Homo sapiens: one gene and its partner. The protein of the gene in region 1 purifies or fractionates together with the protein of each later gene. This does not show direct contact. Each region holds a gene or a part of one and is shown on either strand. Other genes may lie near its edges.

Region 1 (3,500 bases):
TCCAGGTAAGCAAGAGGAGGAAGCTAGAATGACCTAAGTTTTTGGTTTAAGGAAGATACAAGCAGTTGCATATGGAAATATCTACAGATATGTATACACACATGGGTTAGCATCCACACATATATTTACTTGCTCTGTCAGCTGAGACGGCCTAGAAGCAACACACCAACAGCCACCAGCACACCTAATTCCCAGATCTTGGTTTGTTGTTGTTGTTTAATATTCAAGATGGGATCTTGCTAGTTGCCCAGGCTGCTCTTGAATTCCTGGACTCAAGCGATCTTCCCATGTCGGCCAAAGTGCTGGGATTATAGGTGTGAGCCACCACAGATCTTGGTTTTTAATACCATTCTCTAATAAATAAAAGGAACCAGGACTGAGGCAAAAAAAATAAATATATATACAAGATGAGCTTGGAGCATCTTGTATTGCCAGAGAATAATGAAGTGTTCACAATACACACACACAATCATGGGGACAGGTGGGCTCATGAAAGGGATATAGGAACCAAGTAAAAGAGCTCCCAATGGCCAAAGCTTTTTCCAGGAAAATAAAATAGTATTGCTTTATAACCCGAAGCATCAAGTAAACATGCACGAGTCCAGACTGATATAAAGCAGTGGCTGAATAAACAGAAAATAGACAAATACCCAGCGCCACGAGTCCGAGGAATGCCTGTGGCTCCTCCTCCTCCAGCAGGGAGGACGCTGCTCCCCACCCCTCAAGTATGGCCGTTCACAGGGACAGTTTCTAACGAGTGGAGTACGGAAAGGAGGAAAATAACTTTACTGAGGAGAAACTTGGCAAACACCACCTCAGTCAGCCAGGTGTTCAAGGCCACATCCATAGCAATGAGTCCTGTGGACAGAACACAGCCTTGACAGGCTGTGGCGAGACAGGCCCTCTAACTGCATCACCCAAGTCTAGTCATAAGGAAAATATCAAACAAGTCCCAAGAGAAGAGCATCCTACAAAAAAATCCCTGACCCACAGCACTGCTCCCAAGTGCCAGTCATCCAAACAAGGAACGCCTGAGAAAGCACCACAGCCAAGAGGGGCTGACGAGATGTGCCCACTCATGTCCTGTGTGATCCTGGGTGGGATCCTGGGACAGAGAAAGGACATTAAGGAAAAGCTGAGGAAATCTGAATCAAGTGTGAATTTTATCGATAGGAGAAAGCGTGGGTGGAGTGGGGGGATGGTCGACAAAGCGGAATGATCCTTCCTCCCTGGAGGAAGAAAGGGGAAACCCGGGCATGAAGAGAAGTGAAAGCAGTTCACTCAGGAAGACGAGTGCTGAGTGTCTCAGCAGAGAGGAGGAGCGGGGCTGCGGCGCTGGGAGGGCCTATGGAGACCGCAAAATGGAAATGGGGTGGAGAGGCGGCGGCCAAGAGGGGCCTGAACTGTCACCCTGCAGGGCCCAGACAATGCTGACACCTTAAGTGTCTCATAGAGGATGGGAATGGCTGGTCCTTTTATCCAAAAGCCCAGCCCAGCACCATAAACTTACCCAGGGCTGGAGATTAGCCAGGATGATGGGCTAGAAAAGCAGAGTAACGAAGGCAAGACCAAGATGCAAGCGGGAGAGGCCAACCTCAGAGTCCAGGGGGCAGGAGGAGAGGCCTGGTAAGCCAAGTGACCGAAACTCAGGGCACTGAGGGCCCGAGGAGCCTGAGAAACAGACTCAGAGGAAGTGAGGGGCAGGACTGAGGCTGGGTCCAGGGGGGCGCTGTAAGATCCGGAGGCAGTGGTTCCTATGGGCCGTGCAAACGGGGCCACATCCCAGGTATGCCACCAGCCCGGATGAGTCAGGGAACCTGAGTCAAGGTGGGGAAGGCTACAGAGGGAGCTCACGTCCTCCCTCAACTCACAAAAGGAGCGCAGCACTCAGCTGACCCACTGCAGTGAGCTGATGGCGACTGCGCTCCTAAGTGCTCTTGCCATCAACTGGCAATCATGAAATATTCAGTTTGTCCTTTCAAATCCTACCATAGGAAATGATGCTCTAAGAAACCATGATTTTCTACTCAAATTACTGAATCCAAAGATCAGAATATTACTTTTAAGGAAAAAAAAAATCCACACCAGAATATTAACCCAACTCAAGCCAGATCTCAATGATATGCTGGCACGTAAGTCATACGGTGAATAGTGACATTGCCTGACCTTTCTAGAAGGGCATTTCATATTAAAATACTTAATCACTCTACAGTAGGATCAGAACACTGCAGATCAAAAACATGGCAAAGTGGGGGAACACACACAGCACACAATGAACCGTGGAAGTGGGAGAGGGAACACCAGTCTCAGGAGTGAGGGGCCTGGGGGACAACACTGACTTCCCTTCCCCCTAGCCACACCCGGTCTCTGACTGGATACTTCTCCTCCACCCATGTAAACGCCGGGAGCACCCGGGCTTAGTCCTCGGCCTTCCCTTCATCTACATGCTCTCCACAAAGGAGCTAATGGGGAACCTCAGTTTCACGAAGTTTAAACAAAAAAAGATATCTGGAAAACTCTCAGGCTGACGATGCATCCCTAAGGGCGTCTATCCAACTGGCCACTTAACAACTCCAGGGCAGGAGGGTCAAAGCAGAACCTCCCCCACTCAGTCACGACCCCACTCTTTCCCATCTCAATCAACGGCACACCACACCCAAAAAAAAAGGCCCCGCCCTTCATGTATCTCATTCCCCACCTCTCCACATCTAGCTGATCAGCAAGTCCTATGGGGTGCACCTCTAAACCTACCCCAAATCCGACCACTTCTCCCACCTCCTCACCCGCCCAGACCAAGGTCCCATGAGCTCTCACCTGGGGAGTGCTTAGATCACCTGCTGACCAGTCCTCTCTCTACTCTCATGCCTCTGCTCACCCAACAGTCCAGTCCCCCATGCAGCACCCAGAGTGGTCTTCCACAGACGTAAATCAGATCATGTCACTCCCCTCCCTAAGCTCATGCAATCACTGCCTTTTCAGTGCGAATAAAATCCCACCCCACCCCCCACTCCACCCCACCACCATGGCCTAGAAAGCCCCACTCCATCTGGAGCCTGCTGGCCTCCCTTCCTAGCAGCCTCTCCCTGGCTGCTTGTTCTGCCATCACCTCAATGGAATGTTACTCATAGTATCCCCAGCACTCCCGGGTTCACCACGCACTCCACAAACATTTCTTGAGTGAATAAGTAAGGGAAGGAGGGTGCTTGAGGGAGACAAGAAAAAGTAGAAAGGAAGTCCACAGGCAAACGACAGGGGCGTGTGATAAGATCTGCCAGGGGAGTGGGCCAGAGGCCCAAAGGAGCCTGGCAGAAAAGGAGTAGAAGAGAAATGCACAAGGGTTATAGAGAAAGAGGGAGACGGGGGTGAAGAGAAAAACCCCACCTGTAGGCAAGTCACAACTTCAGGTCCAGAAAACATGTGCGCGGGACCTCACTAGAGCACGCAGGCCAGATGAGGTGGCCTCCAAGGAATGCTTACTCGTACCCCAAAGGTTCCCCTTT
Region 2 (4,118 bases), on another chromosome or scaffold:
CTTTGGGAGGCCGAAGCGTGAGGATCGCTTAAAGACAGGAGTTGAAAATCATACTGGTCAATATAGTGAGATTGCAGTGAGCCATTATCGCGCCACTGCATTCCTGCCTGGGTGACAGTGCGAGACCCCTTCTCAAAAAAAAAAAAAAAAAAAGAAAGAAAAAAATCATAAGCAAACAACAACAAAAAAACAAATATAAAGAATGGCGGTCTGCTTAATTCTCCGTGCCAGCCCTTGAAATCAGTGGGTATTATTATGTAGAGTTTGAGTTCTTTCCTCCCTTGAGTAACATGAGTGACATCAGTAACATTAGTCAAGCGCTGCTCTTTTTGAAAGACTGTATTTCATTATTTTTATTCTAAACCTTACTCTGTTTGATGAAGATTGGGGGAAGAGCCCTCCCAATTCCACCGCTCACACATAACAGCGGTTGCTAGCATTCTTTATTTGTGCTAGGTCATCTGCATATTGTTTAAACATTTTTCGAGGCTGGAAAGACTGCTCCCACTCAGGCAATTCTGACGTGGCGGCCCTTCTAATTTATATTCTCTAAATAATTCTTCATTTAGAGAAAACAGTCAGGGATTACAGTGAGGGAGGGTGACGTGCTGACGGGGACAGAGCTTGGCTTTTGATCATTCTCCCCTTAGCTCTGCCCAGGCAAGCGTCCCTAACTCAGGGTATCGGAACCGATCTCCCTTAGAGGATTATGTTTCAACCACCAGCCTCAGCGGTTTACTCAAATGTCCTTCCAGCCAAATGCAGAAGTCTCCCTGGGAGTAATTTTGGTGAAGTCAGCTTTTGCCTTTTTCATCACAGGCAGGCTTTAGTAGTTCCTCAAAACGTGCACCACAACTGCCCGGCTGCCAAACAGAAATGCTGATGCCTGGGCCCACTCTAGCCATTTGGCCTCGGCATCACGGTGCGGGAGCGTGGGGCGCAGACTCGCATTGTCACAGGAACCTCCCGGCCTTCCGAAGAGCCCCGCGCCGGGGCCTTTGTCTCGCACGTCGGCTGGGGCGGGAGCTAGGTTCTCGCAGCCTCCTCCCACCGCTCTGCGCCTTCTTTGTCCCTCCAGAAGCCGCCATCAAAGCTCAGCTCCTGATTAGGTTTCGGCCCCGCTGGCCGGCGCAGTCTCGGCGACTACCCCAGGCGGCCTGGCGCACGCGAGGATTCGCCGCGCCCCAGATGCAGGTGCCTCCCCTCCTTAGCCGCCGACCGACAGTGCACGCCGCGGCCGCCGGAAGTGACAGCGCCTGTCGTTGGGGAGCTCCCGCCCCTTCCGCCTCGGCGCCCCGCCCAGGCCTCGCCCCTAGGTGTTCCCGCCCCTCCCCCTCCCGTGTCGCTCGCTTTCTGTCAGCCTCTCTCCCTCTCCCTCTCCCCTCTCCTTCCTCTCGCTTCCTCTCTCGCACCTGAGCGTACGCACCTGCCCGGGCCCGGCTCCCTCCTCCTCTCCCCTCCCTCTTTCCCCGCCCGGCCGCGGGAGCCTCGTGGCTGCGTCACCGCCGCCCCCCCAGACAAGATGGACACCGCGGAGGAAGGTAAGTCGGCGACGCGCGGCGCCCGAGCCCTTGCGTCGGCGCCCGGGTTCGTACCCCGGCCAGGTCCGCGGCGCTCGAGGTGGGCTGCTGGATCGCGGCGGGGCGGACGCCTGGGCCGTTTGTCCACCCGCTGGGCCTCTGGGCCGGGGAGCGGAAGGTGACCCTCTGCGCGCCCCCCGCCGTTTCCCGCCCGCGCCGCCGAGGGGGGCGGGGACCCTGCCGGGCAGGGGCCGGGGCCGGGGTCGGGGCCTCGGGGCTACTGCAGGCCGGCGTGGCCTCCCTTGTCCCCGCCGTCGCGCGCTGGCCCAGAAAAGGGGGCCTCTGTCGCTGCCGTCCGGGGGCGTTTTCCGCACCCTTCCCCCACTGGGTTTTGTCTTTCTTTACGTCCTTCTGCCTATTGCTCGCCAGGCCCTACCCCCTCGCGACAGAACTTCTTTGTTGACTTTGAAACTTCGCGAAAAATACCCCGCCAGATGACGGCCGAGTGGAGTGAGCTGACCCCTGTTGAAAAGCCTGGTCCTCGGCTTGCCTGCCGCTCGAGAATCTGTTTACTAAACGGGGAGGCTCTTTTGTTGCGATCCATTTGGTTTTAAATCCTTGACACCTATAAGCAGGGTTCTGTTTGTTTTGTTTTGCGATTGCTTGTGTTTTGGATACGGTTACATTGAACAAACTGACCCTTGTAAAATGAATACTTAAGATATAAACGTCCACACCTTATGTCTCTTCAAACGCATTTTCTTACCCACTGAAGGTAGTAGATTATTTTTAACCAGCTGTGTTTTTAAATGAGTGGTGAGTTTATAGAGGAAATTACTAAATTTTGCTTTTTTTGATGTTCCGGTTATCGTGCAAATGCTTTTCTACTTTAGGTATATTTATGGGGGTATGAGCGTCTTTCAACCTTATGGGTTGCGATTTTGGCGATTTTAAACGAAAATGAATTATCAAACGCCGTCATGGAGTGCAATAATGAGTGAAAAAAGTTTGATATTATCTATGTAATGAGTTGATAACGACTTATTTTTTTTTAAAGAAGTCTTGCCTTTAATAAATACCTCAACTATAACATGTGGCACTTGATGTACATTCGCGTTCCATCTTCGTAAAAAGCCTGTGGAATAGGTAGGTATTATCTTTTATAGATGTGGAAATGTAGGCTTCGTTATTTTAATAGCTTGTCGAAGCTTTACACAGGTAGTAAGAGGCAGATTTGAACCTAGGCATTCTGATTGCAAGTAATTTCCCTTTCATTATGCCACAGTGTGTTTATTATATACACTGAGTGTAGCTAATCGCCACTGGAGACGCCTTTGGAAAAAATAGTAAAGCGAAACTGCTGAAGGTTGCGAACTATTTCTTTTTGACAGGTGGTCCTTGCGTGTAAATTTCCATCTACATAGGTTTCACATCCTTTTAGATTCAGGTTTTAATGAGTAAATCTAGTAAGGCATGTATTTATCACAGGATAGGTACGGACGTATTACATTCAATTCTCATTCTTTTGGCCTGGGCATTGCTACTTGCATACTTTTATGGTGTGACAGTAATCTGTGGTAATTCAGGAATTGCGCTCGAAGCACGTATGGAATCATGAAATATTTTCACTGTACTTCTAGTGCTTAAATATATTTTTTCTCTTGTAAAATTATAATCAGGATAAGGTATACATAACATTTATTTATTGAACACTGTTGCCTGTTAAAATAACATGTGCTGAAGACTCAACGTGTAGTATGTGCTTTACTAAACACTTTATATACATTTCATTTAATTCTCTCACATCGTTAGGTAGTCGGCATTTTCATTTTACAGATGAGGAAACTGATGGTTAGTATGATTAAGTAACTTGTCCAGGATAATACAGGTAGTAAATGGCAGAGGCAAGATTCAGACTCATGTCTGTCAGAGTCGCACTTAAATTAGATTATTTATTTATGAGTGTATACTACAAGTCCAATGTTGAAATTTATTTTTGTCACTCCCTCTATAGGATGAATCATTTATATAATTTGGTGGAAACTTTATTTTGCTTTATTTTGTTTTATGAAATTATTAGTCATGAAATGCAAGTGAATTTTAGTGCCGTATTCTCATGCCTGCTTTTGCAAAATTCCAGTTTGGAAGTCTTCTGACATTTTTACAATTAAATTTAAGTTGAAATAACACTTAAAGGAAAAGGGAGGGTTATAGAGGATTAAAAATGATATAGCAAAGATGCCAAAAAACTAATAAAAAATGTTCTATTTGTGAAATCAGTTATTATAGGTTATTTCTTTAAAAAATGCGACTTAGGTTTTTTAAATCTGCTTAGAAATTTTTTGGTAGGAGATATTCAAAGTATGGCCAAACATAAAACTAAATTAAAAAAAAATCAGTATCACCTACTTTTGAAAACACTTATACTGTTGTGGTTCTGTTTTTTATTTATTTTATTTTATTTTATTTTATTTTATTTTATTTTATTTTATTTTATTTTATTTTATTTTATTTTCCGAGATGGAGTCTTGCCCTGTTGCCCAGGCTGAAGTGCAGTGGCATGATCTCTGCTCACTGCAACCTCCACCTCCCAGGTTC

The links. Proteins that work in one complex are often made in the same cells at the same time.
Region 2: the proteins of ZDHHC7 (region 1) and MARCHF6 purify together in Homo sapiens (affinity purification with mass spectrometry; 2 studies listed by BioGRID and IntAct, with this or other methods). This does not show direct contact.

The regions. Positions count from the first base shown.
Region 1 is NC_000016.10:85,001,536-85,005,035, forward strand, and holds part of ZDHHC7 (palmitoyltransferase ZDHHC7), read right to left. Parts: intron 3,049-3,500; exon of another isoform or gene 2,815-3,048; intron 1,709-2,814; exon of another isoform or gene 130-1,708; intron 1-129.
Region 2 is NC_000005.10:10,352,377-10,356,494, forward strand, and holds the start of MARCHF6 (E3 ubiquitin-protein ligase MARCHF6), read left to right. Parts: upstream 1-1,318; 5' UTR 1,319-1,522; coding exon 1,523-1,541; exon of another isoform or gene 1,542-2,666; intron 2,667-4,118. UniProt on the Homo sapiens protein: Endoplasmic reticulum membrane-associated E3 ubiquitin ligase that plays a critical role in mitigating endoplasmic reticulum stress, the regulation of cholesterol and lipid homeostasis, and ferroptosis.